Regions from separate parts of the Homo sapiens genome. Here region 2 is linked to region 1. Evidence: fine-mapped QTL for protein levels in blood plasma. Region 1 holds a variant in brackets. A gene starts in the other region. All regions are shown on their reverse strands. Region 1 overlaps LINC02356 (long intergenic non-protein coding RNA 2356). Region 2 holds the start of TYMP (thymidine phosphorylase).

What was found. A credible set is the group of variants that fine-mapping cannot tell apart. PIP is the posterior inclusion probability: the model's chance that the variant is causal. The UK Biobank Pharma Proteomics Project read protein levels with antibody pairs (Olink). The fine-mapping took linkage between variants from a reference panel, not from the people measured, so its PIPs are less certain.
Region 2: it holds the start of TYMP, and the variant in region 1 is the best candidate, but not a certain one, in a credible set for the plasma level of the TYMP protein (UK Biobank, PIP 0.78).

What each region holds. Positions count from the first base shown.
Region 1 is chr12:111,387,009-111,404,040 of GRCh38, reverse strand. LINC02356 (long intergenic non-protein coding RNA 2356) reads right to left here. Exons shown (of 4, transcript NR_187522.1): 3 at 7,168-7,210; 4 at 731-903. Among named protein-coding and RNA genes, the nearest start is that of SH2B3, 10 kb to the left of the region's middle. RefSeq lists an enhancer at 662-911. The variant C/T (reference allele first, on the strand shown) is at 8,057.
Region 2 is chr22:50,529,801-50,539,512 of GRCh38, reverse strand. It overlaps TYMP (thymidine phosphorylase), which reads left to right and starts at 9,501. Exons shown (of 10, transcript NM_001953.5): 1 at 9,501-9,609. It overlaps CIMAP1B (ciliary microtubule associated protein 1B), which reads left to right and starts at 7,015. Exons shown (of 7, transcript NM_001014440.4): 1 at 7,015-7,036; 2 at 7,402-7,544; 3 at 7,740-7,943; 4 at 8,218-8,322; 5 at 8,455-8,576; 6 at 8,661-8,801; 7 at 8,953-9,087. The coding sequence starts at 7,436. The coding sequence ends at 9,033. RefSeq lists enhancers at 1-33, 1-103, 134-183, 8,076-8,581 and silencers at 7,034-7,083, 7,274-7,463, 7,494-7,703, 7,784-7,943, 8,294-8,403 and 3 more.

The sequences.
Region 1 (17,032 bases):
GAGGATGTGGGAAGAGGGGTGGGGTGGGGGAATGTCAATGAAGTCTAAACGAGGCCGGGTGTAGTGGCTCACACCTGCAATCTCAGCACTTTGGGAGGCTGAGGCCAGCGGATCACCTGAGGTCAGGAGTTTGAGACCAGCCTGGTCAACAGGGTGAAACCCTGTCTCTACTAAAAATACAAAAATTAGCCAGGCATGGTTGCACGCACCTGTAGTCCCAGCTACTGGGGAGGCAGAGGCAGAAGAATCGCTTGAACCTGGGAGGTGGACACTGCAGTGAGCCAAGATTGCATCACTGCACTCGAGCCTGGGAGACAGAGGTAGGCTCTGTCTCTAAAAAAAAAAAAAAAAAAAGTCTGAATGGATCATCCCATATTATTTGATCACTTTCTTATACCTGGGGACACTGCGGCCAAGAGAGAACAGTTACTTGTCTGTAGCCATGCAGCTGCCAGGCAGCACCCACAGAGCAGCCCGGTACCCAGCCAATGCCAAATGGCTGCTGAAATCTGCCAGCCACAAGCACTTTCCCTCTCACTGCCCAGACAGCAGCTCTGCTGACTTAAATTGGGACTTGTGGTTCTTCCCCTTTTTAATCACGGTTCAAACCTTCTCGCCTGCCAGATTTCTCGGAGGCCCAAACTGGTTTCCTTCCTCGCTTAGTCGCTTCTTGCCCACATCCCCGCCAGAGTCCAGTTTTTTGTTTTGGCGCTCGCTGAGACCCCAAGACTTCTCACTTTTTGTGTTTATTTTCCCTTGGAAAGGCAAAGGGATTCCAACAAATAACCTTCCCATCACCGTGCCCAGATTTGAGAGTGCCGCTGCCACGAACACAGCGAGGTCGTCGTCGCCACTGGGAGGCCGGCCAGCCACGGCTCTTCCCACTCGGCAGGTCACTGGGACCTAAGGAGAGAAAGGGTTATTCAAATTCCCATGACTGATCCGTAGCTCCCGGAAACAAGCCAGGCCGTCTTAGGGGAGCAGGTCCAACCGCCCTTCCTTCTTGCTGTGAAAAACACCAACACCTCCTGCTGGCCAAGTTCCAGAAAGCCGGAGACTCACAGGATTAATAACAATTACAGGCCACGCGCGGTGGCTCATGCCTGTAATCCCAGCACTTTGGGAGGCCGAGGCAGGCGGATCACCCAAGGTCGGGAGTTCGAGACCAGCCTGACCAACATGGAGAAACCCCGTCTCTACTAAAAATACAAAATTAGCCAGGTGTGGTGCCGCATGCCTGTAATCCCAGCTACTCAGGAGGCTGAGGCAGGAGAATTGTTTGAACCCGGGAGGTGGAGGTTGCGGTGAGCCGAGATCGTACCATTGCACTCCAGCCTGGGCAACAAGAGTGAAAATCCGTCTCAAAAAAAAAAAAAAAAAATTAAAAAGATAACGATTACAACACGAGTCAACAGCAATAAATTAACAATGATCAATGCTATTAATATTCATATTAGCAATTCGTATTAATAATAATTTAAATAACAACAAAAGTTAACTAGTACAAACACAAATACATGATAAGTGCTTGAGGTGATGGATACCTCATTTACCCTGATGTGATAATTACACATTGCATGCCTGTATCAAAATACCTCACATACTCCATAAATATATACACCTACTATATACTCATAAAAATTCAAAAAGTGGGCCAGGCGCGGTGGCTTAGGCCTGTAATCCCAGCACTTTGGGAGACTGAGGCGGTGGATCACAAAGTCAGGAGTTCAAGACCAGCCAGGCCAATATGGTGAAACCCCATCTCTACTAAAAATACAAAAATTAGCCGGGTGTGGTGGCGGGTGCCAGTAGTCCCAGCTACTCGGGAGGCTGAGGCAGGAGAATCGCTTAAACCCAGGAAGGGGAGGTTGCAGTGAGCTGAGATCACGCGACTGTGCTCCAGCCTGGCAACAACAGAGCGAGACTCCGTCTCCAAAAAAAAAAAAAAGAGTTCTCTGTTCTGTATCTCCTAGCTGTGCAGTCACATAGATTCTCTGGGCCTCAGTTTCCTCATCTGGAAAATGGGGACAGTGACAGGACTGACCCCATTGGGTTGAGGGGGAATTTGATGAGAAAACTCACATTGAGGGCTTAGGAGTGGGGGAGGTACCTCCACATAGCAACGACTGATAAAGAATGTTGAATATAGTGCAGGCTCGGTGGCTCATGCCGGTAATCCCAGCACTTTGGGAGGCTGCAGCAGATGGATCACCTGAGGTCGGGAGTTTGAGACCAGCCTTGTCAACATGGTGAAACCCTGTCTCTACTAAAAATACAAAAATTAACTGGGCGTGCTGGTGGGTGCCTGTAATCCCAGCTACTTGGGAGGCTGACGCAGGGATAATTGCTTGAACCTGGGAGGCGGAGGTTGCAGTGAGCCGAGATTGCACCATTGCACTCCAGCCTGGTGACAAGAGTGAGACTTCGTCTCAAAAAAAAAAAGAATGTGATTATAATCTATGATTGGGTGTGAGAGTCCCGTGTCCCTCGAGGGTTGTGAAGAGGAGTGGCCACAAAGACCAGTCCTGTAAACAACAGAGCTTCACACCCCTTTTACAGATGCAGACACTGAGGTTTGAGAGCAAAGATCTTGCCCAGGGTCACCCAGCCAGAGTGGAGGCCTTGCTGTCTGCATTTGTAAAATGTGCTTCTGCAGGCCTGGGCCACAGGCGAGGAGGAGGCCCGGGGACCTGGCCTGGCCTGGCCCCCAGCTGGGCAATGGCTACTGCTGGTGTTTCCCATGCCCGAGTTTCCATCACGGCACTGCTGTGCAACCTCCAAAGGTCCCCTCTTGCCACCAGCAACAGGCTCCCACTTTCTGAGCCTCAGTATCTCTGGCTTGTCAAATGGGCATGATAGTAGTTGGGTGAAGGGAAATGACATTGTGTAGGACACTTTGTCCCTAGTGGCCTTCAGTGAATGCACAGAGTGCTGAGCATTATCAAAGGACACTGCAGCACACTGGGCTCCTCCTGGCTGTTCCTCAAACTCACCTTCATGCTCCCACTTCAAGGCCTTAGCACTGGCTGTTCCCTGTGCCCAGAATGCTCTTCCACCAGATGTTTTTGTTTTGTTTTGTTTGAGACGGAGTCTCACTCTGTTGCCCAGGCTGGAGTGCAATGGCTCAATCCTGGCTCACTGCAGCCTCTGCCACCTCCTGGGTTCAAGTGATTCTTCTGCCTCAGCCTCCTGAGAAGCTGGAATTACAAGTGAAAGCCACCATGCCCAGCTAATTTTTTGTAGTTTTAGTAGAGATGGGGTTTCACCATGTTGGCCAGGCTGGCCTTGAATAGCTGACCTCAGGCAATCTTCCCGCCTTGGCCTCCCAAAGTGCTGGGATTATAGTCGTGAGCCACCGCGCCCAGCTGTCTACCCTTGCTTTCTTCACTCCCAGGAGATGTCTGACTGCCCACCAAACCTAAACCAGCCCTGCCCCCATTGCTGACCATCTCCATCTCTCTTCTGCTCCTGCTTTTTTTCTTTCTTTTTCTTAGAGGCAGGGTCTCACTCCATCACCCAGGCTGGAGTGCAGTTGTACAATCATGGCTCACTGCAACCTTGAACTCCTGGGCTCAAGCGATCCTGCTGCCTCAGCCTCTCAAGGAGCTGGGACTACAGGTGCACCCCACCATGCCTGGCTAATTGTTTCTATTTTTTGTAGAAACAGGGTCTCTCTATGTTGTCCAGGCTGGTCTCAAACTCCTGGGCTCAAGCAATGCTCCCACTTTGGCCTCCCAAAGTGCTAGGATTACAGGAGCCACCGCGCCTGACTTGCCTCTGCATGTTTTTTCTTCCTCACCCTTGTGGCCCCCTGACTGATACCAGAATCATTGATTCATCTGTTTATTGGCAGTCTCTTTCCCCCACCCCCAGGAGCAGGTCAGCTCCACTCGGCCAGGCATTTGTGTGTCTTGCTCACTCTTGTGAGCACAGTTCTTGGCACATAACAGGTGCTCCTCGTGGCTTAAAAACAGTCCACACTTCTTTGACATACCTCCCTTGAAAAGGTGGAACCTGATTCCCCTGCCCTTGAGTGTGGGCTGGACTTAATGACTCCTTCCTTCCTTCCTTTCCTTCCTTCCTTCCTTCCTTCCTTCCTTCCTTCCTTCCTTTCTTCCTTCCTTCCTTTCCTTCTTTCTTTCTTTCTGACAGAGTCTTGCTCTGTCACCCAGGCTGGACTGCAGTGGTGCGATCTCGGCTCACTGCAACCTCCGCCTCCTGAGTAGCTGGGACTATAGGCACGAGCCACCACGCCCAGCTAATTTTTTGTATTTTTAGTAGAAACAGGGTTTCACTGTGTTAGCCAGGATGGTCTTGATCTCCTGACCTCGTGATCCGCTCGCCTCGGCCTCCCAAAGTGCTGGGATTACAGGCGTGAGCCCCCACACCTGGCCTTAATGAGTCATTTCTAACAGAGACTAAAGTGGAAGTGACGCTGTGTGACTTCTGAGACTGAGTCATAAGAAGCATTTAGGCTTCTCCTTGTACTCTCTTGAGCCATCCACTCTGGGAGAAGCCAGCCACCGTGTCTTAAGGACACCCAAGTAGCTTTATGGAGGTCCGTGTGAAGAGGAACTGAGGCTTCCTGCCACCAGCCAGCAAGGAACAGAGACCTCCTGGCAACAGCCAGGACTGAAACCATCACTTCCAACTATCCTGGAAGTGAATCATCCAGCCCCAGTTGGACCCCAGATGAGAACAGTCCTAACCCATTTTTGTTTGTTTGTTTATTTAAAAGACGGGGTCTTGTTTCATTGCCCAGACTGGAATGCAATGGCTATTCACAGGCACGATCATATAGCACGATCTATAGCCTTGAACTTCTAGGCTCAAACAATCCTCCTGTCTCGGCCTCTCAAATAGCTGCAACTGCATGTGCGTGCCACCAGCCCATGTTTCGGACTACCATCTCAGGAGTGAGAGACCCTGAACTACAAGCTAAGTCAGATTGCATGTGAATTCCTAAAACCATATGAGATAATAAAGGTTTGCTGTTTTAAGCCAGTAAATGCAGGAGTAATTTGTTACCCAGCAATCAATAATTAACACAGAGCTCAAGAAACCTTGGGGGGGTGAGGTCCAACCAACCCTTTTCCCACCCATTAGGGTCCAACAGAGACCAAGAGGGCTCAGGAAATGGTCCCCCTTGGTCAATACACATCTGCCCCAGGCCAGAAAATAATTACATTACTGGGTTCTTCCCTTTTTGCCTGGGTGGGCAGAACTCCCAAGGCCGATTCCTGGGCTCAGGGTCTGATCTGCTGAGCTCAAGTGCCTGATGTCATCTCTCCCTGTGCTTCCTTCCCTTGGATTCAGTTCTGTTTTCTGTCCTCCCAGTGCCTTAGAAGCTAAAATTGCCACAAGTCCTTCCCTAAGAAAAGCATGAACAGTATTTACAATCTGGACTCCATTTATGGAAGCGTGCGCCACACTGAGAACATCACAGGCCTTATCTCTTCCACCCCAAATGAACGGTTTGCTATTCATTTTCCCATTTGTCAGATGAAGGAACTGAGGCACAGGGCAGTGAAGTGACATGTCCATGTCACACGACTGGCAATGAAGCAGCTGGTGTGGACTAAAGACTGGCCTCACTGTAGTGCCCTACCTCTTAATCACTTACTGAGCCCAAGTGATAAAAAATGGTAATAATAACAGAATTAATGATTCTGAATTAATGGTTAATGATTTTTTTTTTTTAGATGGAGTTTCACTCTGTCACCCAGGCTGGAGTGCAATGTCTCGATCTCGGCTCACTGCAACCTCCACCTCCTGGGTTCAAGCGATTCTCCTGCCTCAGCCTCCTGAGTAGCTGGGATTACAGGTATGCACCACTACGCCCAGCTAATTTTTGTATTTTTAGTAGAGACGGGGTTTCTCTATGTTGGTCAGGCTGGTCTCGAACTCCTGACCTCATGATCTGCCTGCCTCAGCCTCCCAAAGTGCTGGGATTATAGGCATCAGCCACCACACCCGGCCCAATGATTAATGATTAATTAATGTTCTTTTTTGTCCTTTTTTTTTGGGGGGGGGTTGGGGGAGGGAGTCTTGCTCTGTCACCAAGGCTGGAGTGCAATGACTCGATCTTGGCTCACTGCAACCTCTGCCTCCCGGGTTCAAACGATTCTCGTGCCTCAGCCTCCCAAGTAGCTGGGATTACAGGCATGAGCCACCACGGTTGGCTAATTTTTTGTATTTTTAGTAGAGATGGGGTTTCCCCATGTTGCCCAGGCTCGTCTCAAACTCCTGACCTCAAGTGATCCGCCCGCCTCGGCCTCCCAAAGTGCTGGGATTATAAACGTGAGGCACCTCGCCCGGCCTAATTAATAATTCTGAGTGATTAATGAATTATTAGAGGATTATGTGCCAGGGACTACTCTGAGGGCTTAGTTTAGGTAGATTACAATTTACTTTGCCCAACAACTGTAAGGAGAGAATGTTGTTTTCCCCCATTTGACAGAAAGGAAACTGAGGCACGAAAGGTGAAGTGACTTCCCCAATTCACGTGGCTGGTAAGTGGCCCAGCAGCGATTTACACCCAGGCTCCCCAGTTCTGATCTTGACCAAAAACAGCGGCGGCCGCGCACCCCAACCCCAGACCCCCGCTTCCACCTTCCCCCGCCCCAACCTCAGCCTGCGAGCCGCCCCCTCTTCCGCTAGCCTGGGGAATCTGGTTTCTGGGGGAAGTGACTCAGTAGCCTGAGGCCCAGTAGATAATTATTCACTTCCAATCCCGGTAATTAGAGTCCCTAATAGCTCCGCAGAGGACGTACAACCCAGTTACCCCAGCCGTCCCCACCCGTGACCCGGGATCAACGTGGGGCACGCGAGCTCCTGGGGCCGGGACTTGGCCGCAGTCCCAGGCATCAGGCCCTGAGGGTGGTAACGCGCGGTGGCAGCCACTTGGTGGCAGCCGCTTTGCGCGGGGCTCTGGCGCCCCCTGGTGGCTGTGGGGCGATCGAGGGCTGGGAAGCGGCCTCCTAAACTCCCCTGCCTCACTCTTTCTCCCGCAAAGAACCTTCCTCTTGGATTCCCCCCAAGCCTTCCTGGAAGCTTCCCAGGCTCCAGGTTGGATGCCTCTCAGCCACCATCGAGTAGCCATCAACGTTGAGTACACGGGTTTGGGGACAGCTTAATGGCTAGCTTCTCCCTTCAGTGCTGGGTCACCTTGGGCAAATGACTTGGGCTCTCTGAGCTTCAGTTTCCGCATCTGTAAAATGGGAACAAAGAATGAGGACACCAGTGGGGCGTGGTGGCTCACGTCTGTAATCCCACCACTTTGGGAGGCCGAGGTGGGAGGACTGCTTGAGACCAGGAGTTCGAGAGCAGCCTGGCCAACAGGGTGAAACCCTGTCTCTACTAAAAATACAAAAATTAGCCTGGCGCGGTGGTGCATGCCTGTAATCCCAGCTACTTGGAAGGCTGAGACAGGAGAATTGCTTGAACCTGGGAGGGACAAGTTGTAGTGAGCCGAGATAGTGCCACTACTCCAGCCTGGGTGATAGCGTGAGACTGTCTCAAAATATATAAATAAATAAACAAATAATGCTGACTATTACTAGCTAAACCTGTTCTCAGGTCTTTCTTTTACAATGAGGAGTGGATTACTAAGAACAGCTTAATCCTACCCGCCTCATTTAATCTACATTAAAAGAAGCATCAAGGCCAGGTGCAGTGGCTCACGCCTGTAATCCCAGAACTTTGGGAGGCCAAGGTGGGTGGATCACCTGAGGTCAGGAGTTCGAGACCAGCCTGGGCAACATGGCAAAACTCTGTCTCTACTAAAAATACAAAAATTAACCAGGCGTAGTGGTGCATGCCTGTAATCCCAGCTACTTGGGAGGCTGAGGCAGGAGAATCGCTTAAACCAGGGAGGTGGAAGTTGCAGTGAGCTGAGATCATGCCATTGCACTCCAGCTTGGGCAGCACAGCGAGACTCCATCTCAAAAAAAAAAAAAAGCATCAAAATGTTAGCTAAAGCCAGGTGAGATGGCTCATGCCTGTAATCCCTGCACTTTGGGAGGCTGAAGTGGGAGGATCACTTGAGCTCAGGAGT[C/T]GGAGGCCAAGCTGGGCAACATAGTGAGACCCCCATCTCTAAACAAACAAAAATGTTAGCTAAAGTACAGAGGCAAAAGAATTGAAAACAGGCACTCAGACAGATACTTGTACATGAATGTTCATAGCAGTGCCATTCACAATAGGCAAAAGATAGAAACAACTCATGTGCCCACCAGGGGATGAATGAATCAAGACAATGCTATCTATACAATGGAATATTACACAGCCATAAAAAGGACCGAAGCATTGATATATGCTACAATGTGGATGAAACTTGGAAGCATCATGCTAAGTGAAATAAGCCAGTCATAAACGGACAAATATTGTGTGATTCTGCTTATGTAAAGTATATAGAATAGGTAAACCCCTAGAGACAGAAAGTAGACCAGTGGTTGCCATGGGCTATGGGCAGCGGGAATAGGAAGTAACTTCTAATGAGTATGGGGTTTCCTTTAGGGGTGATGAAATGTTCTGGATCTAGACTGAGATAAATGATGGTGGCACAACACTGTGAATGTACTAAATTTAGTTACTTCATGAGGCCGGGTGCGGTAGCTCAAACCTGTAATTCCAGCATTTGGGGAGGCCAAGGTGGGAGGACTACTTGAGCCCTGGAGTTAAGAGACCAGCCTAAGCAACATAGTGAGACTCATATCTCTACAAAATAAAATAATAATAATAATAATAATAATAATAATAATATTCGGGCAAGGTAGAATGCGCCTGTAGTCTCAGCTACTCAGGAGGCGCTGTGGTGGGAGGATCACTTGAGTCCAGGAGTTTGAGGCTGCAGTGAGCGGTGATCCTGCCCCTGCACTCCAGCCTGGGTGACACAGCAAGATTCTGTCTCTAAGTAAATGAATAAATTTAGTTAATTCACTAACTAAAATTAATTAATTCATTTTGTTATGTGACTTTCACCTTAAATTTTTTAATGTGGAAAAAGGTGTTAGGATGCACCCTGCCCTCTCTATTCCTTCAGCCCTATCCCCCCACCCCACCCCCATCCTCCATCTCCCATCCTGTTGCCCAGGTGATCTTGACCTCAAGATGCAGATGTGCGGCAGAGGCTGGGAAGTTCTTCTCCCACACCCCCAGAACCTGGCAGAGGCTGGGGCTGCTCCCACAGAGGAGGTGACATATGTACGGGCCACTTCTCGCCTGCAAATCAGCCAGGGTGGCTTCCTGGTTCTAGATCACCAACTTGAGGCCTCCTGAGCCCCTTGCCAGCCCAAGGGGACTTGGGCAGGGCCTGAGGCTGCAGAAAGGCATGGGGGTGCCCGCCCCTGGAGCTTGTCCACCTGTGCCCTCTGCACTGGAGGAGGCAGCAAGCAGGGCCTCTCTGGGGTGTAAGATGTCAAGATGCTCAGAGAGGGGCAGAAGGTGTCAGAGGGCACTGGGTGTGGTGGCTCACGTCTGTAGTCCCAGCACTTTGGGAGGCCAAGGCGGGCAGATCGCTTGAACTCACGAGTTTGAGACTAGCCTGGGCGACATGATGAAACCCCCATCTCTCTCTCTCTCTCTCTCTCTCTCTCTCTCCCCATATATATATATATATATATATATATATACACACACATATATGAAAAGAGGGTGCCAGAGAGGGAGGCAGGAGTTGAGGTCATGGCCGGAAGGGCCCCGAGCCAGGAGAGTGCCCCAAGCCAGCAAGCAGGGTGCAAGGTGCAAGGAGCTGCACTTTCCTCTGCCCTCTGTGGGGTTCTCAGGCCTATCAGACCAGACCATCAGTCACCCAGATGGAAAGGGATTATCTTCAGAGCCTCAGGCACCTGAGTTACTTCCTTTCAGAACTCAGACAGGGGTGGGCTTGAGCTTATTCTTGGGTCAAGAGCAGGACACTGGGGCCAGCTGCCTGGGTGCGCCTCAGGGCTCTGCCACATAGACCTGCTGTGTGACCTTGGGGGAAGTCACTTCATGTCTCTGAGGCAACTGGGGCCACAGGGCCATAGAAAGGAGGAGAGGAGAGAGGGGAGTATTTGGCAACACTGTTAGAAGCAGAAGTAGAAAGCGGAGGGTGGGGCTGGAGGGTGGGGAGCGCAGCTGACCCTGCGTTTCCCTGCTGGAAGCCACTCACCGTGAGGCCGAAGTCGAAGTGGACATGGGCTGTGGCTGCCTGACTTCCCCTTGTGCTGGTAGAAGCACCTGATTTTCCATCCAGTCGGAGTTCAAGATGTTCTCTGGGGCTAACCCTCCCTCCCATGCCCCAGTGACTGGTTCAAGGGTGGGCAGGGCCAATGAGCCTCAATTCCAGTCTTTAACAGCACAGTCGGATAAGAAAATACCTCATTTGGGCTGGGCACGGCGGCTCAATGCCTGTAATCTTAGCACTTTGGGAGGTCAAGGCAGGCGGATCACTTGAGGTCAGGAGTTCGAGACCAGCCTGGCCAACATGGTGAAACCCCATTTCTACTAAAAAGTACAAAAATTAGCTGGGCGTGGTGGCACGCCTGTAATCCCAGCTACTCGGGAGGCTGAGTCAGCAGAATCGCTTGAACCTGGGAGACAGAGGTTGCAGTGAGCCGAAATCGTGTCACTGCACTCCAGAGGACATGAGCTTGGAATTTCTGAGGGCTGTCTTGCCTGGGAGTGAACACACTCATAGTAGAGCAAAGCCCAGAGACAGAGAAAAACCATCTTGATGACAATGTCTGTGCACCTAGATCCAGCCATACCTGAAAGCAGTCACTCTTGGACTTCTCAGCTCTGTAAGTCAGTCATTTCTTTTTGGCTGAAGCCTGTTTGTGTGCAGCTTTTAGCCACTTGGCAATGGCCAGAGAACAGCACTGGGTCCTCCTAGCAATCATAACACCCAAATGTGCTTTGTGGGCTCCTCATACCTGAAACAGGAGACTGGGATGGTCCTGTTTGCATCTATTGGGTTGACTGGAATGGCCCTGGGGTTGGACGTTTGCAGCACCAGGCAGCAGAGGAAGGCTGAGAGGAGTTAGGGCCCCATAAGGTCAAGAGAATACACTGCCCCTCAACTTGAGATTTGTTGAGCCCCTACTATGTGCTAGGACTTCTCCAGGCACTGGGGATACAGTGGGGAACACAGCAGACATGGTGTTTGTTCTCATGGTAGACAGGCAGTTGGAAAGTGAATCCTTAAATACAAAGTGACAAGTTAAATACCCTTAAATACAGAGTGACAAGTTCATGGGCCATGAAGCTCACTGAATTCTTCTAACAACCCTTATCATCTCCATTTTCCAGATGAGGAAACTGAGGCTCACAGAGGTGAAGTGACTTGCCCAAGGTTGCACAGCTACTCAGATTCTAAGCTCGGGTTTACTTGCTCGCTGTGTGACTTCAGGCAAGCCGCGTCACCTCTCTGTTTGGTTTCTTTATGTTTAAAATAGAGATAGTAAAGTCTTTCCTAATTATCAGTGTCATGGTAAGAAGCAAAACCCTCAAGTGCTCGGTAAACATTAGCTATTATTTTTATTTTATTTTATGTTTCTGAGCTGGAGACTTGCTCTGTCGCCCAGGCTGGAGTACAGTGGCACAATCTCAGCTTGCTGCAAACTCTGCCTCCTGGGTTCAAGCCATTCTCCTGCCTCAGCCTCCCAAGTAGCTGGGATTACAGGCACACCACCACGCCAGCTATTTTTTGTATTTTTAGTAGAGACAGGATTTTGCCATGTTGGCCAGGCTGGTCTTGAACTCCTGACCTCAGGTGATCCACCCGCTTCAGCCTCCCAAAGTGCTGGGATTACAGGCGTGAGTCACCGCGCCCAGTCTGTTTCCCCTGTTTTACAGATGAGGAGGCCAAGGCACAGAGAGGTAAAGTGACTTGCTGAAGGACACACAGTTTGCAAATGGCAGAGTGGGGATTAGAACCCACTCATGCATATTAAACCCATTAATTTCCAGCCTAATGCATGGTTACAAGTTGCTTTTTACTATTTTTAAAAATTTTGGCTGGGCGTGGTGGCTCACGCCTGTAATCCCAGCACTTTGGGGGCCCGAGGCGGGTGGATCACGAGGTCAGGAGATCGAGACCATCTTGGCTAACACGGTGAAACCCCGTCTCTACTAAAAATACAAAAAATTAGCCAGGCGTGGTGGCGGGCGCCTGTAGTCCCGGCTACTCAGGAGGCTCAGGCAGGAGAATGGCGTGAACCAGGGAGGCGGAGTTTGCAGTGAGCCGAGATCGCGCCACTGCACTCCAGCCTGGGCGAAAGAGTGAGACTCCGCCTCAAAAAAAAAAAAATTTTTTTTAAGAGACAGTCTCGCTGTGTTGCCCAGGCTGCAGCGCAGTGGCTATTCACAGGCACGATCATAGCGCACTACAGCCTTGAACTCCTGGCCTCAAGCGATCCTCCCGCCTCAGCCTCCCGAGTAGATGGGACTGCAGGTGCGGACCACCACGCCCAGCACAAGTTGCTTTATGAGTCTGGGGCTTCACCGGCAAATGAAAGACCTCCTCTGCTCTTCTGCAATCCTGGATGCGACTCAGGAACCATGCCTGCCAGCCTCACCTCCCTTCAGCTCCTGACCCTGAAGAGCCAGAAGGAAAATAAATCCCACGAAATCTATCTACAGAAGGCAGCCATTCTGGGTTTCTGGGCGGGAGTTGGTTGGTTGTGGGTTTTGCTAAAGCAGTACTTGGATAGGATTTTTTGGATTTGAAGTGGAGAGTGCTAGGTGGTTAGGAATACCAGCTTTGTGGGCATGGTGGCGCATGCCTGTAGTCCCAGCTACTCGGGAGGCTGAGGCGGGAGAATTTCTTGCCAAGATCGCGCCATTGCACTCCAGCCTAGGCAACAAGAGCAAAATTCTGTCTAAAAAAAAAAAAAAAAAAAGGAACACCAGCTTTGGTGACCAGTAGGCTAGCACCCGCTCTGCCTCTTCCTGTGAGAACACTGGTGCCTCACTCACCATCTCGGAGCTTTGGGTTGAGGATTCACAGTGAGGCACCATGTCAAATAAACACAGCCCCGGCCCCAGGCAATACCTCTTCGTTGCTTTGAGCAGGTGAAATTTAGAAATTGAAATTGCCCCTTGGGAGAAAATGTCCAGGAATTTGGGTGTCTGTGGCAGGGGTCTGGGGGGAAATGAGAGGCTCCCTTAAAGGAGGGACAAAAGGATAAAGGGAGAAGTTGCCAATGCCAGCTTTTTTTGTTTGTTTGTTTGAGGCAGGGTCTTGCTCTGTCGCCCAGCCTGGAATGCAGTGGCGTGATCACTCACCGCAGCCTCGACCTTCCAGGCTTGAGTGATCTTCCTGCCTCAGTCCCCCAAGTAACTGGGAGTACAGGTGAATGCCACCACGGCCAGCTAATTTTTATTTTTATTTTTTGTAGAGAGGGAGTCTTGCTATATTGCCCTGGCTAGTCTTGAATTCCTGGCCTGAAGCATTCCTCCCGCCTCAGCCTCCCAAACTGCTGGGATTACAGGTGAGAGCCACCATGTCTCATGTGCCACCTTTTAAAGCAGGACTCATAAATCCTGCACTTGCCAGGTGTGGTGGCTCACACCTGTAATCCCAGCACTTTGGGAGGCCGAGGTGGGCAGATTGCCTGAGCTCAGGAGTTTGAGACCAACTTGGGCAATATGGCGAAACCTTGTCTCTACTAAAAATACAAAAAAAATTAGTCAGGCTATGTGGTGCACACCTGTAATCCCAGCTACTCGGGAGGCTGAGGCATGAGAATCACTTGAACCCGGGAGGAAGAGGTTGCAGTGAGCTGAGATCATGCCACGGCACTTCAGCTTGGTGACAGAGTGAGACTCTGTCTCAAAAAAATAAAAAAATAAAAAAAAATTAAAACAACAACAACAACAAAAACCCCTGCACTTGAGGCAGGGGATGAGCCGGCAGGACCTTCCAGGTCTTTGGGACTTCAGCAAAATTCACTCACACACAGCAACCCAGCCCTTGGCTGGTGTCTCCTTTTTCCCATGTATATACCAGGGGAAGGGGACCCTTGAAGTGGAGGGACTCTGGCCCTCACTATCGCTCCCCCTTCCTCCATGTCCTGCCCAGTGTGGAGCCAGGCCAGCGTGTTTGTGGTGGAGGATGATTTCGGTTCCCTCTTGTGGGTGGCTGGCTCAGCCCACTTCTTGGGTGGGGTGGCCATGGTGGAAGGAAGCTCCGCCTCAGATCCCACCTGGACCACCATCTGCCCCTGCTGGTGGCTAGGTGAAGAGGGGCATCACTGCCATCAGTCCAGAGACTGAGATCTGGATGCCAAACAGCGGGGCCAGGGGACACCAGGTCAGCCACTGACTCATATCCTCGTCACCAAGCACCTGCTATGTCCTGGGCACTGCCAGGTGCTGAGACACAGCGGTGAACAAGGCAGACCAAACCCCCTGCCTTCCTGGACCTGCCTTCCAATGTGGGGAGAAGCCCGCCAAGGGTACATCCATAGTTATCAAGCCCAGATACGTGACCTGCAATTGGCTTCTCCTGGTTTTTCTCCTATGTCACTGGCTGTATCTTCTCATTTCCTTTGTGGGTCCTGCCACATCTTCCCAACCTCCTGAGAAAAGCCCACAGGCCTCCATGATGTCATCTCTCCTCTCCCCTCCTCTCTGCTGCAGCCACATGGCCTCCTGCCTGCGGGCCTCTGCATGTGCTGTTCCCTCTGCCAACAACGCTGTTCCCTGGCCATCTGCATGGTTTGTGCCCTTATTTCCTTCAGGTCTTTGCTCAAAGGCTGCCTTCTCAAGGAGGCCTTCCTCGGTCCCCTCCTAGTAAAATGACAAGCCCTGCAACCCATCCTCATGAACAATTCATATCCTCTTGCCCTGCTTATTTTTCTCCTGGGCTCTTAACTTCAATTCATGGACTGTACGAATGTTATTTACTTATTTTCCCCTCTGGTCAGGAAGGGCAGGGGCACTTGTCTTGTCTGTCTTTAAAAAAATAATAAGTTAAATGAGGTGAAGTTCCTATAACATAAAACTATTTTTTTTTTTTTTTACATAGAGATGGAATCTTGCTATGTTGCCCAGGATTGTCTTGAACTCCTGGGCTCAAGTGATTCTTCTGCCTTAGCCTCCCAAGAGGCTGGGACTACAGGTGTGAGCCACTGCGCCCAGCAAAACTAACCATTTTATTTATTTATTTATTTATTTAGAGACAGAGTCTTGCTCTGTCACCTAGGCTGGAGTGTGGTGGTGGCAGGATCATGGCTCACTGTAGCCTCGGCCTCCCAGGCTCAAGTGATCCTCCTGCCTCAGCCTCTGAATAGTGGGACTCCAAAAAAAAAAAAAAAAAAAGCCCAGTGTACAGGTGTGAACCACCATGCCCTGCAAAACTAACCATTTAATTAATTGTTTAATTTTTTTGATAGAGTCTTGTTCTGTCACCCAGGCTGGTGTGGAGTGTCATGATCTCAGCTCACTGCAACCTCTGCCTCCTAGGTTCAAGTGATTCTTCCACCTCAGCCTCCTGAGAACCCCGGAATTACAGGCAAGCACCACCATGCCCGGCTACCTTTATATTTTTAGTAGAGATGGGGTTTCGCCATGTTGGCCAGGCTGGTCTCAAACTTCTGACCTCAAATGATCCGCCTGCTTTGGCCTCCCAAAGTGCTGGGATTACAGGTGTGAGCCACTGTGCCTGGCCATTGCCTGTCTTTTTAACTTCTATCCCTGGTGCCTGGGACAAAGCAGTGCCCAGTAAATACTGGTTGAAAGAATGGCTAATGGGAAGCAGCGAAGGCCTCTGACTTAGCGGGAGGGGAAGGGTTGGGGTCACAGACCTTCCTGGAAGAGGCAATGGCTGAGTGAACACTTAAAGGATGAGGGGTGGCTGAGTGAAGGAGGAAGCCTCCTGGGAAGGGGACCAGCACATGCAAGGGCCTGGAGCCTGGCGCACTCTGGGAAGAGAGGGAGGCCAGGCAGCTGCAGCGAAGCGTGAGGAGAGTAAACCATGTGTGAAGAGGCTTGAGGGGTAGCCAGCAGCCAGGATAAGGAGGGCCTTGTCACCCATGGGATGGAGTCTGGACTTGCTCCCAAGGCCATGGGGAGCCATGGAAAGGCTTTGGGCAAGAGGGTGCCATGACTTGATTTCATGAAAGTTCTAAGAGGATCCCTCGGCTGCTCAGTGGAGAATGAACCCTGGGGATGAGGGAGTTGGGAGTGGCAGAAGGGAGGCCGGAAGGGAGGCTGCAGTAACCGACCTGGGGAGAGATAGTGGTGGCCTGGGATGGGGAAGTGGTGGCAGAGATGGAGAAGTGATGGATTCAAGACACGGTTTGGAGGTAAAATCAGGACTTGATCTCGGTGGCCAAAGCCCAGTTCTAGTTCCCAAATTTCCCTTTTTAGTTCTTCTGACTCACTGTCTGCTCTCCACACCTCTCCTGTTCCCAGCCACAAAGATGCCTGGGTGTTCACAGTAGCCCAAACGGAGACACCCTGCGGTCCTCAATGGATGGATGGATGGATAAACCAAAGGTGGCATATCTGGCCAGTTGCAGTGGCTCACACCTGTAATTCCAGCACTTTGAGAGGCCAAGGTGGGTGGATCACTTGAGGTCAGTAGTTCAGTTCGAGACCAGCCTGGGCAACATAGTGAGACCCTGTCTCTACAAAAAATACAAACAAAAAAATTGCCTGGAGTGGTGGCATGCACCTGTAGTCCCAGCTACTCAGGAAGCGGAGGTGGGAGGATTGCTTGAGTCCAGGAGGTTGAGGCTGCAGTGTGCCATGATTGTGCCACTGCACTCCAACCTGGGGAACAAAATGAGATCTTGTCTCAAAAAAAAAAAAAAAATTAGGGTATCCATACAAGGGAACATGATTCAGCCATAGAAAAGAAGAAGGACTGATACATGCCACAATGGGATGAGCCTCAAAACCACGATGCTAAGAGACAAAGCCAGTCACAAAGAAACACGTAGTGTTGATTCCATTCATATGAAATGTCCGGAATAGGGAAACCCATAGAGACAGAGAGCAGATGGCTGGTTGCCAGGGGCTGGGGGGAGGGGCAATGGGGAGTGAC
Region 2 (9,712 bases), not on the chromosome of region 1:
CGCAGATGTCAAATACGAGTCCACCAGCTTAAGGGTCCCTGGTGAGGATGACAGAAACTTGAGAAGCTACACTTATCAAACATCCCACAACCTAACTCATGAAAGTTGGCTGAGACGCCTAAGTGCTGAGCGTCGGAGGCTGTCACTTGTTTATGATCCACATATCAGAGTGCTTGTTTCTGCCACGTCTCCAGCCCGGGAGTACTGCAGGGCCCTGGGGCTCTTTACCCACGTGCACACCCTCAGTCAGGGGCAGCAAAGTTTTTGTGCGAAGAGCTGGATTGCGGCTGTTTTTGCCTCTGCAGGTCACACAGTCTCTTGCAACTACTCAAGTCTGCACAAAACCAACCTTAAAAAATAAAAGGATGTGGCTGTGTTCCTATAACATTTTATTTTTTATTTTTATTTTTATTTATTTCTTTTTTGAGATGGAGTCTGGCTCTGTTGCCCAGGCTGGAGTGCAGTGGTGGGATCTCGGCTCACTGCAAGCTCCGCCTCCCGGGTTCACGTCATTCTCCTGCCTCAGCCTCCCGAGTAGCTGGGACTACAGGTGCCCACCACCACGCCCAGCTAATTTTTTGTATTTTTAGTAGGGATGGGGTTTCACAGTGTTAGCCAGGATGGTCTCGATCTCCTGACCTCATGATCCGCCCGCCTCGGCCTCCCAAAGTGCTGGGATTACAGGCGGGAGCCACCGCGCCTGGCCCCAATAAAATTTTATTTACAGAAACAGGAGGTGGCTGGACTTGGTGACCCCTGCACTAAGCGGCCCCATCCATTCCCACGGCTTGTGCACGCCTCTCAGTTCAGCATCTCCGACCTGGACCTCTCCGCTACGTCTGCCATGAACATCACTGGGTGGCAGACGACATCTCAAGCCTGCTGTGCTCACATCAGGACTCTTGATTTTCCACTGTGCTGGATGTGGTCCATTGTGTTCAGCTTCCATTCTCACCTCCTTTTGTTTATTTTCCTGTATTTTAGAACCTAAAATACAAATGCGGCAATACTGTGTTTTACAGATCCCCTTGCAGCCACAGTTCCGGGCGAGGCTGTTGGATTCAGTGCAGTTGTGTAAGATGTGAAAGGCAGAAATGACTCGGAGGCCTCCGCCCTGCGCTGACTGCTGGCAGACAGGGCTGTGGACACTCAGCCGTCGCTGAGGGAGGCCTGGGCAGCAGGGGTGCAGCATCAGGATTCCCGGCAGGTTCCTGATCTCAGAATCACAGCTACCCAAGTTTCCTCTTAAGCTCGGTAGTCCCAAAGGCCACCTCTCAGCTATTATACCACCAACTCATCCAGCGATTCTATAATATTCCCCATAATAAATCCATTTCTACCCCTGCCTGATACACTCACCGAACCTCTCTCATCTTCCCCTCCGAAAATCTCTATCACGACTTAGTTCCAAACAGAAGGGAACAGCCACACCAGGAATGTGAACAGGAAAAACATTAACATAGCGAATCGTTACCTAGTAAGATGACGTTAACAGCGGAAGTCAAGAAAAGAGGACACAAAGGGATTCAGAAGCAGCAAATGCAGAAAGATGCCGCGATGGCTGGGCTTCAGGAGCAAGGAAGGGGCCGGGAATGCACAGAGCTGCCAGGGGTGCGTGGCCCAGCCAACCTGGTGCATCAAATTAACTGTCGCATGCGGTTAATACCTAAGAACCCTTTTATTCTTTTCCTGTTTTAGAATTTTTTTGACAATTGAACACATTTTTGCATATGAACTTTAAATTTGTGTTTTCCTATTTTTAACATTGGAAATCTTACTGGAATTAAATATTTATATTCATTTGAGGAGCTGTTTGTTTGTTTGTGACAGAGTCTCGCTCTGTCCCCCAGGCTGGAGTGCAGTGGTGCAGTCTTGGCTCACTGCAACCTCCACCTCCCAGGTTCAAGCGATTCTCCTGCCTCAGCCTCCCTAAGTAGCTAGGATTACAGGTGCCTGACACCAAGTCCGGTTAATTTTGTATTTTTAGTAGAGATGGGTTTTCACTATGTTGGCCAGGCTGGTTTCCAACTCCTGACCGCAAGTGATCTACCTGCCTCGGCCTCCCAAAGTGCCGCGATTACAGGCATGAGCCACAGCGCCCAGTCTCGTCTTCCCATCTTGTTCAGAGGATTACCGGTAGGGTAATGAAAATCGTAAAGCGTTAGCCATCTGAACAGGTAACCTTAACCTGTTCTGTTTTATCAAAAACATAATTTAAATCCAACTGTCCTTTCACACACCCGTGAATTTATATTTTTATGTTTTACTGTTTTTGTTTTTGCTTTTGTTTTTGTTTCGAGACAGAGTTTTGCTCTTGTTGCCCAGGCTGAAGTGAAATGGTGCAATCTCGGCTCACTGAAACCTCCGCCTCCCGGATTTAAGTGATTCTCCTGCTTCAGCCTCCCGAGTAGCTGGGATGACAGGCACGCACCACCACATCTGGCTAATTTTTGTATTTTTAGCAAAGACAGGGTTTCTCCATGTTGGTCAGGTTGGTCTCGAACTCCTGACCTCAAGTGATCTGCCCACCTCGGCCTCCCAAAGTGCTGGGATTACAGGCATGAGCCACCGTGCCTGGCCTACTGTTTTATAACTAAAATTTTCAAGTGAAAAGCCACAAGATCTTTGTGTTGTCTATGTTTTTGTGTCTTTATGTCTATATGTGATTTTAATTTACAAAGAACTCTATTTAATTGGCATAAAGAAAAAAAGCACTTAAATCAAGTAATCTAAGAGCATACAGTGTATACTATTTTTATACTATATTTAAGAAATATAGGGACAAGCACAGTGGCTCATGCCTATAATCCCTGAACTTTGGGAGGCCAATGCAGGAGGATTGTTTGAAGTCAGTTTGATACCAGCCTGGGCAACAAAGTAAGACCTCTTCTCTACAACAAAAACAAAAATAGCTGAGTGTCTCTATTAAAGTATAGATAGATAGATAGATAGAAGAAAATACAAAAATAAAATCATTCTGCAAACTGAGTTCATCATATTACTTCACTCTGTGTCATTCTTTTAAAACCCTGCACCTGCCCAACCTCTGCAAAAGTACAACTGCTAACAAGTAATGCTGGCGCAGCACTTTGACATGATAGGGAACACCTGTGAGACTGATCAAATGAAAGGCCGACTTAACCCAATAGCTACTCCTTCCAAATTTCCTTCCAGCTGCTCAAATGTGGTTCAAATGGTTTTGACACTGACTTAAAATTGCTGGCCATTCTCCCAACATGGCACCAAGTCAACCTGGACAGGAAGGGATAATCGAAACCTAACCACAGGATAATTGATCAGTGATGTCTTCAGAGAATTTTTTTTTTTTTTTTTTGGGGACTGAGTCTCACTATCACCCAGGCTGGAGTGCAATGGCACGGTCTCAGCTTACTGCAAACTCCGCCTCCCGGGATCAAGTGATTCTCCTGCCTCAGCCTCCCAAGTAGCTGGGATTACAGGCACTTGCCACCATGCCCAGCTAATTTTTGTATTTTTAGAGGAAACGTAAAAATTGCCAATATCAAGATGGAGTCACTTGTGTCGAACCCAAACAAAATAAGAGGTTAAGAAGGGGTGGGGGCCTTCATGCACACATGCCTATGAAAAGAACCATGACAAAACTCTCTGAGTGGCTGGACGCGGTGGCTCACGCCTATAATCCCAGCACTTTGGGAGGCCGAGGCGGGCAGATCACAAGGTCAAGAGATCGAGACCATCCTGGCCAACATGGTGAAACCCCATCTCTACTAAAAATACAAAAATTAGCTGGGCATGGTGGCGGGCGCCTGTAATCCCAGCTATTCGGGAGGATAAGGCAGAAGAATTGCTTGAATCCGGGAGGTGGAGGTTGCAGTGAGCCGAGATTGTGCCACTGCACTCCAGCCTGGCGACAGAGCGAGACTCTGTCTCAAAAATATACATATATAGTTATTATATTTTATCTACTACTTTGTGTTAGTTCCTGTTTCATTCCTTTATGTTACTTATTTTTTTTCCATTTGTAAGATATATACTAAGCTTTTTGAATCGTTTCTTCATTAATAATGTAGTCACGAGGCTGGGTGGCTTACTTCTGTAATCCCAGCACTTTGGGAAGCCAAGGCCGGTGGATCTTTCGAGCCCAGGTGTTCAAGGCCGGCCTGGGCAACATGGTGAAACCCCACCTCTCCCAAAAATACAAAACAAGTAGCCGAGTGTGGTGGTGCATGTCTGTGGTCCCAGCTACTTGGGAGGCTGACAAGGGAAGATTGTTTGAGCCTGGGAGGCAGAGGTTGCAGCGAGCTGAGATGCTCCACTGCACCCCAGCCTGGTTGACAGAGTGAGACTCTGTCTAAAATAATAATAATGAAGTCTTTTTTTTTTTTTTTTTGAGATGGAGTCTTGCTCTGTCGCCCAGGCTGGAGTGCAGTGGTGCAATCTCCGCTCACTGCAAGCTCCGCCTCCTGGGTTCACGCCATTCTCCTGCCTCAGCCTCCCGAGTAGCTGAGACTACAGGCGCCCGCCACTATGACTGGCTAATTTTTTTTTGTATTTTTAGTAGAGACGGGGTTCCACCATGTTAGCCAGGATAGTCTCGATCTCCTGACCTCGTGATCCACCCGCCTCGGCCTCCCAAAGTGCTGGGATTACAGGCGTGAGCCACCGCACCCAGCCATAATGAAGTCATCTTAAAATGACTATAAATTTTCCTCAGAACATGTAGGGTCCAGCCGTACGGGGCTTAGTGGGTGTTCTCCCCGTGTGCGGAGATGAGAGATTATAATAAATAAAGACACAAGACAAAGAGATAAAGAGAAAACAGCTGGGCCCGGGGGACCACTACCATCAAGAGGAGGAGACCGGTAGTGGCCCCAAACGGCTGATATTTATTGCATACAAGACAAGGGGACAGGGTAAGGAGGGTGAATCTTCTGAGTGATTGACAAGGTGAAGCATGTCACGTGATCACAGGACAGGGGCCCCTTCCCTTTTAGGTAGCTGAAGCAGAGAGGGAAGGCAGCAAACGTCAGCGTTTTCTTCTATGCATTTCTAAGAAAGATCAAATACTTTAAGACTTTAACTATTTCTTCTACCGCTATCTACTGTGAACTTCAAAGAGGAACCAGGAGTATGGGAGGAGCATGAAAGTGGACAAGGAGCGTGACCAGTGAAGCACCACAGGGAGGGGGTTAGGCCTCCGGATGACTGCGGGCAGGCCTGGAAAATATCCAGCCTCCCACAAGAAGCTGGTGGAGCAGAGTGTTCCCTGACTCCTTCAAAGAAAGGAGACTGCCTTTCGCAGTCTGCTAAGTAACGGGTGCCTTCCCAGACACTGGCGTTACCGCTTGACCAAGGAGCCCTCAAACGGCCCTTATATGGGCGTGACAGACGGCTCACCTCTTGCCTTCTAGGTCACTTCTCACAATGTCCCTTCAGCACCTGACCCTATACCCGCCGGTGATTCCTAGGTTATATTAATGATGCAACAAAGAGTAATATTAAAAGTTAATGACTAATGTCTACACTAATGATTGATAATGTCCATGGTCATCTCTATATCTAATTTGTATGATAACTATTCTTACTGTAACTATTTTCTTTATTATACTGAAACAGTTTGTGCCTTCAGTCTCTTGCCTCGGCACCTGGGTAATCCTCCGCCCACAAGAACACAGCTTTAGCTGCCTCCTGTAGGAGTTCAGTAGGAAGGGAATCTACCTTTGTAGTGTTTGATATGTAGTTTTAAGGAAGGAGACCACCCCTCATATATATGTCTTATGCCCAATTTCTGCCTCCAAAGAAAGAAAAAGTAAAACCTAAAAGACAGAAATAAAATCCACAGGCAGACAGCCCAGTGCCGCGCCCTGGGCCTGGTAGTTAAAGAGGGACCCCTGACCTAACCGGTTATGTTATCTGTAGATTCCAGACATTGCATGGAAAAGCACTGTGAAAATCCCTGTCCTGTTCTGTTCCGTTCTGATTACCCGGTGCACGCAGACCCCAGTCACGTACCCCCTGCTTGCTCAATCGATCATGACCTCTCACGCAGACCCCCTTAGAGTTGTGAGCCCTTAAAAGGGACAGGAATTGCTCACTCAGGGAGCTCGGCTCTTGAGACAGGAGTCTTGCCGATGCCCCCGGCCGAATAAATCCCTTCCTTCTTTAACCTGGTGTCTGAGGAGTTTTGTCTGCGGCTCTTCCTGCTACAGTTTGTAACCAGATTATTTCTGACAAGTTTTGATCCAGGGTTTTTTTTTAAAGATTTGTCAATTTCAAAATATTTGTTTGCTCCTGCTTCCTGTTCTCTCTCTCCCTTTTTTTTTCTTTTTTTAAGACAAGGTCTCACTCTGTCACCCAGGCCGGAGTCTAGTGGTGGGATCACTGCTCACTGCAGGATCCAACTCCCAGACTCAACAGATCCTGCCGACTCAGCCACCGACCCCATAGCTGGGAATACAGATGTACATCATCACACCCAGCTAATTTTTAAAGTTTTTTGTCGAGATGGGTCTCACTGTATTGCCCAGGCTGAGTTTTCTTCTTCTTTTTTTTACATTTTGTTTGCCTAGAATTGTATTTGATTGTAATCAAATCATGTGTCACATCTTTTTTTCAATTTGTGTGATTATTTTGTGGCCCAATACATGATTTTTTTTGCGAATATTTCATGGACTTAAATAGATAAGTCCTCTCTCTACACATAATTAAATGGAGTGTGTGCTTTGCATTATTCAGTTCCTTTATTCCCATCCTTGCTTTTGTCTGCAGATTTGTCCTATTCCAGAATGGGTATACTGAAACTTGGGTAAGGGTGAGGCCAGCGTTCTGGGTGGCCCAGGCTACTATCCCACCCGTGCCACAGAATCCACACAGAGGCCCAGCGGCGGCACTGGGTGGTGGGGAAGGGGGAGGCGGACCCAGGTTGGGGGGGCAGGCAGTCAGTGCGGTTGCCAGGAAGCGGGAAAGGGCCACAATGGGGTCTGGGAGGTGGGCGGGGCGGAGCGGGGATGTCCAGCCACGTCGCTTTGTTTTCCCACGCTAGGAGCTACCACAACAGGTCAGTGCACCTCGGGGCACCGGGTCCCCCACGCAGGCCCTTCCCGGGGCACCCTTTCCCAACAGCACGAAAATCTCCTGCCCCCACCCCACCCCCAGGTGATTCCCTTCACCAAGTCTGGGTCTAGACTTGGCCCCCGCGAGTTCACGTCCCTGCCTAATGCGCCTGGAGTCCGGGTGATGGCCCTGGATCCGCTCCCGGCCCCAAGCTCCACACAGCCGGGAAGGAAGCTCGCGTTTGTTTTGCTGGCGCCAGGGATACGGTCCAGGCCCCGCCCCGCCCCGCGCTGATCCCAGGGTAGTGGGAAAGTGCGCTCCCCAAGAATTTGCGGTGCAGGGGCCGCGGCCACCGCCTTCTGTCCGCAGGTGCTGCGAGCCGTAAGCGCCCCCCACCCGCGCTATGGGCTCGGACGCCTGGGTGGGCCTTTGGCGGCCACACCGGCCCCGCGGCCCCATCGCGGCGCACTACGGAGGCCCCGGGCCCAAATACAAGCTGCCGCCCAACACCGGTAGAAGGGGCAGGCCCCGGGATTGAGGGGTGGGACGGCGCCTGGGGGAGGGAAGGGGAAGAGACCAGGGAGGCCTGCGCTCGGGGCTGAACCGTGCCTGCTAGAGGGGAGAGGGGGTCTGTGCCGGGGGAGGGTCCGTGTTGCAGATGGGGCTTGGGGCTGGGCCCGGCCAGACGCTAACTCGGATGCTCCCAGGCTACGCCCTGCATGACCCGTCGCGGCCGCGCGCCCCCGCCTTCACCTTCGGCGCGCGCTTCCCCACGCAGCAGACGACGTGCGGCCCCGGGCCAGGCCACCTGGTGCCCGCTCGCATGACCGTGCGCGGCACCGACGGCGCCCCCGCCTACTCCATCTACGGCCGCCCACGCCGCTCAGCGCCCTTCCTCACTCCGGGACCTGGTCAGGACCCCCGGGCCCCTGGCCACCCCAACGCCGAACTGCCTCCAGGGAGGCCCACCTGGGAACCCCCGACCTGAACCCCGAGTCCCCCTCGGATACCCTAACACCGCATATTCGGTACCCCCATATCCGGATCTCAAATCCCAAACCCCGAACCCCACGGGGCTTTGATAAATCGTGGCTCAGACTCCCCACTAGTCCCAGGACCCCATCTCGGGTACCCACCAGGCTCCCACGCAGTTCTAGCCCCCCACACCCTTGATCCGCCCCGCAGGCAGGTACTTCCCGGAGCGAGCGGGGAACGCGACGTACCCCAGTGCGCCTCGGCACACCATTGCTCCCCGAAACTGGGGTGTCCAGGCGGAACAGCAGAGCCCAGGTGAGGTCAGAACGGCCCATCCCAGAACTGTGGGCCTTCCCACTCGAGACCGGGGACCGCCCTCCGGGAGCTGGGACCACCCTGCGCCTGTCCGCGGAGACCCACTACCCCCGAGCCCTGCCTCCTCCCCAGGTCCCGCGGCCTATACGGTGCCCTCGCTCTTGGGTCCGCGCGTCATCGGCAAAGTCTCCGCCCCAACTTGCTCCATCTACGGCCGCAGAGCGGCTGGCAGTTTCTTCGAGGACCTCAGCAAGGTGGGGGAGGGGCCGGGGCGGACGCAGGGGGTCCCTGGTCCGCGGCAGTGGAGGCGGCAGCCAGCACCCTCTGCCCTCTCGCAGACCCCGGGCCCCTGCGCCTATCAGGTCGTGAGTCCAGGGGTCTACAAGTCCCGGGCCCCCCAGTTCACGATTCTGGCGCGGACTTCGCTCCCCCAAGACAACACTCGGAAGCCAGGGCCCGCGGCCTACAACGTGGATCAGGTGGCCTGGAGCCCAGGGTCAAGGGTCAGAGTCAGGAGAGTGGGGAGGGCCTGAGGTCGGAGTGATGGGATCAGAGTCCCCGGGGGTCCAGGGGTCCCGGCGCGGAGAGGATGCCGGCCCCGCGAGGTCAGCGGTGTCTCCGGGCCCGCAGCACCGGAAGCCCCGCGGCTGGAGTTTCGGGATCCGGCACTCGGACTACCTGGCCCCGCTGGTGACCGACGCGGACAACTGACCCGCCAGGCGGGAGCGGCCCCACACGTGTTTGCTTAAAGTCTGCGAGTCCGCATCGTGTCCGCCTCTCTCTCTCTCTCTCTGCGCGTCCTGGCGCAAGGCCTGGGGTGGAGCCACGGCTGGGGCCGTGTCCCAACTCCGAACCCAGCGGGGCGGGGCCCGAGCGTCGGGCGAGGCCGGGACCCCAGCGCTGCGCCGCGTCCGAACGTCGAGACCCCACCGAGGGCGGGAGGGGGACTCTCGGGAGCCACAGACGCCCGAGACCCACGCCGGGCGGGACCGGCCAGGGATCACCCCCGCCGACGGCCCCGGGCCCCGACGGCCCGGAAGTTCCGCGTGTCCGGGGGCACCGGGGGATTGGCCGGGGCGCGGCGTGCAAGGCTTCCCGGGGGCGGCGACTGCCGAGCTCCGCCCTCCAGGCGGCCCCACCCGCCTGCCGTCCTGGGGCGCCGCCGCCCCGCCGCCGGCAGTGGACCGCTGTGCGCGAACCCTGAACCCTACGGTCCCGACCCGCGGGCGAGGCCGGGTACCTGGGCTGGGATCCGGAGCAAGCGGGCGAGGGCAGCGCCCTAAGCAGGTACGGGCGGGGCTCAAGTCGCGAGGCGGGGAAGCGGGAGGCAGACACGGACGAGGGCGACACAGACACGGGACCGAGGGGCGGACACCGGAGAGACACGGGA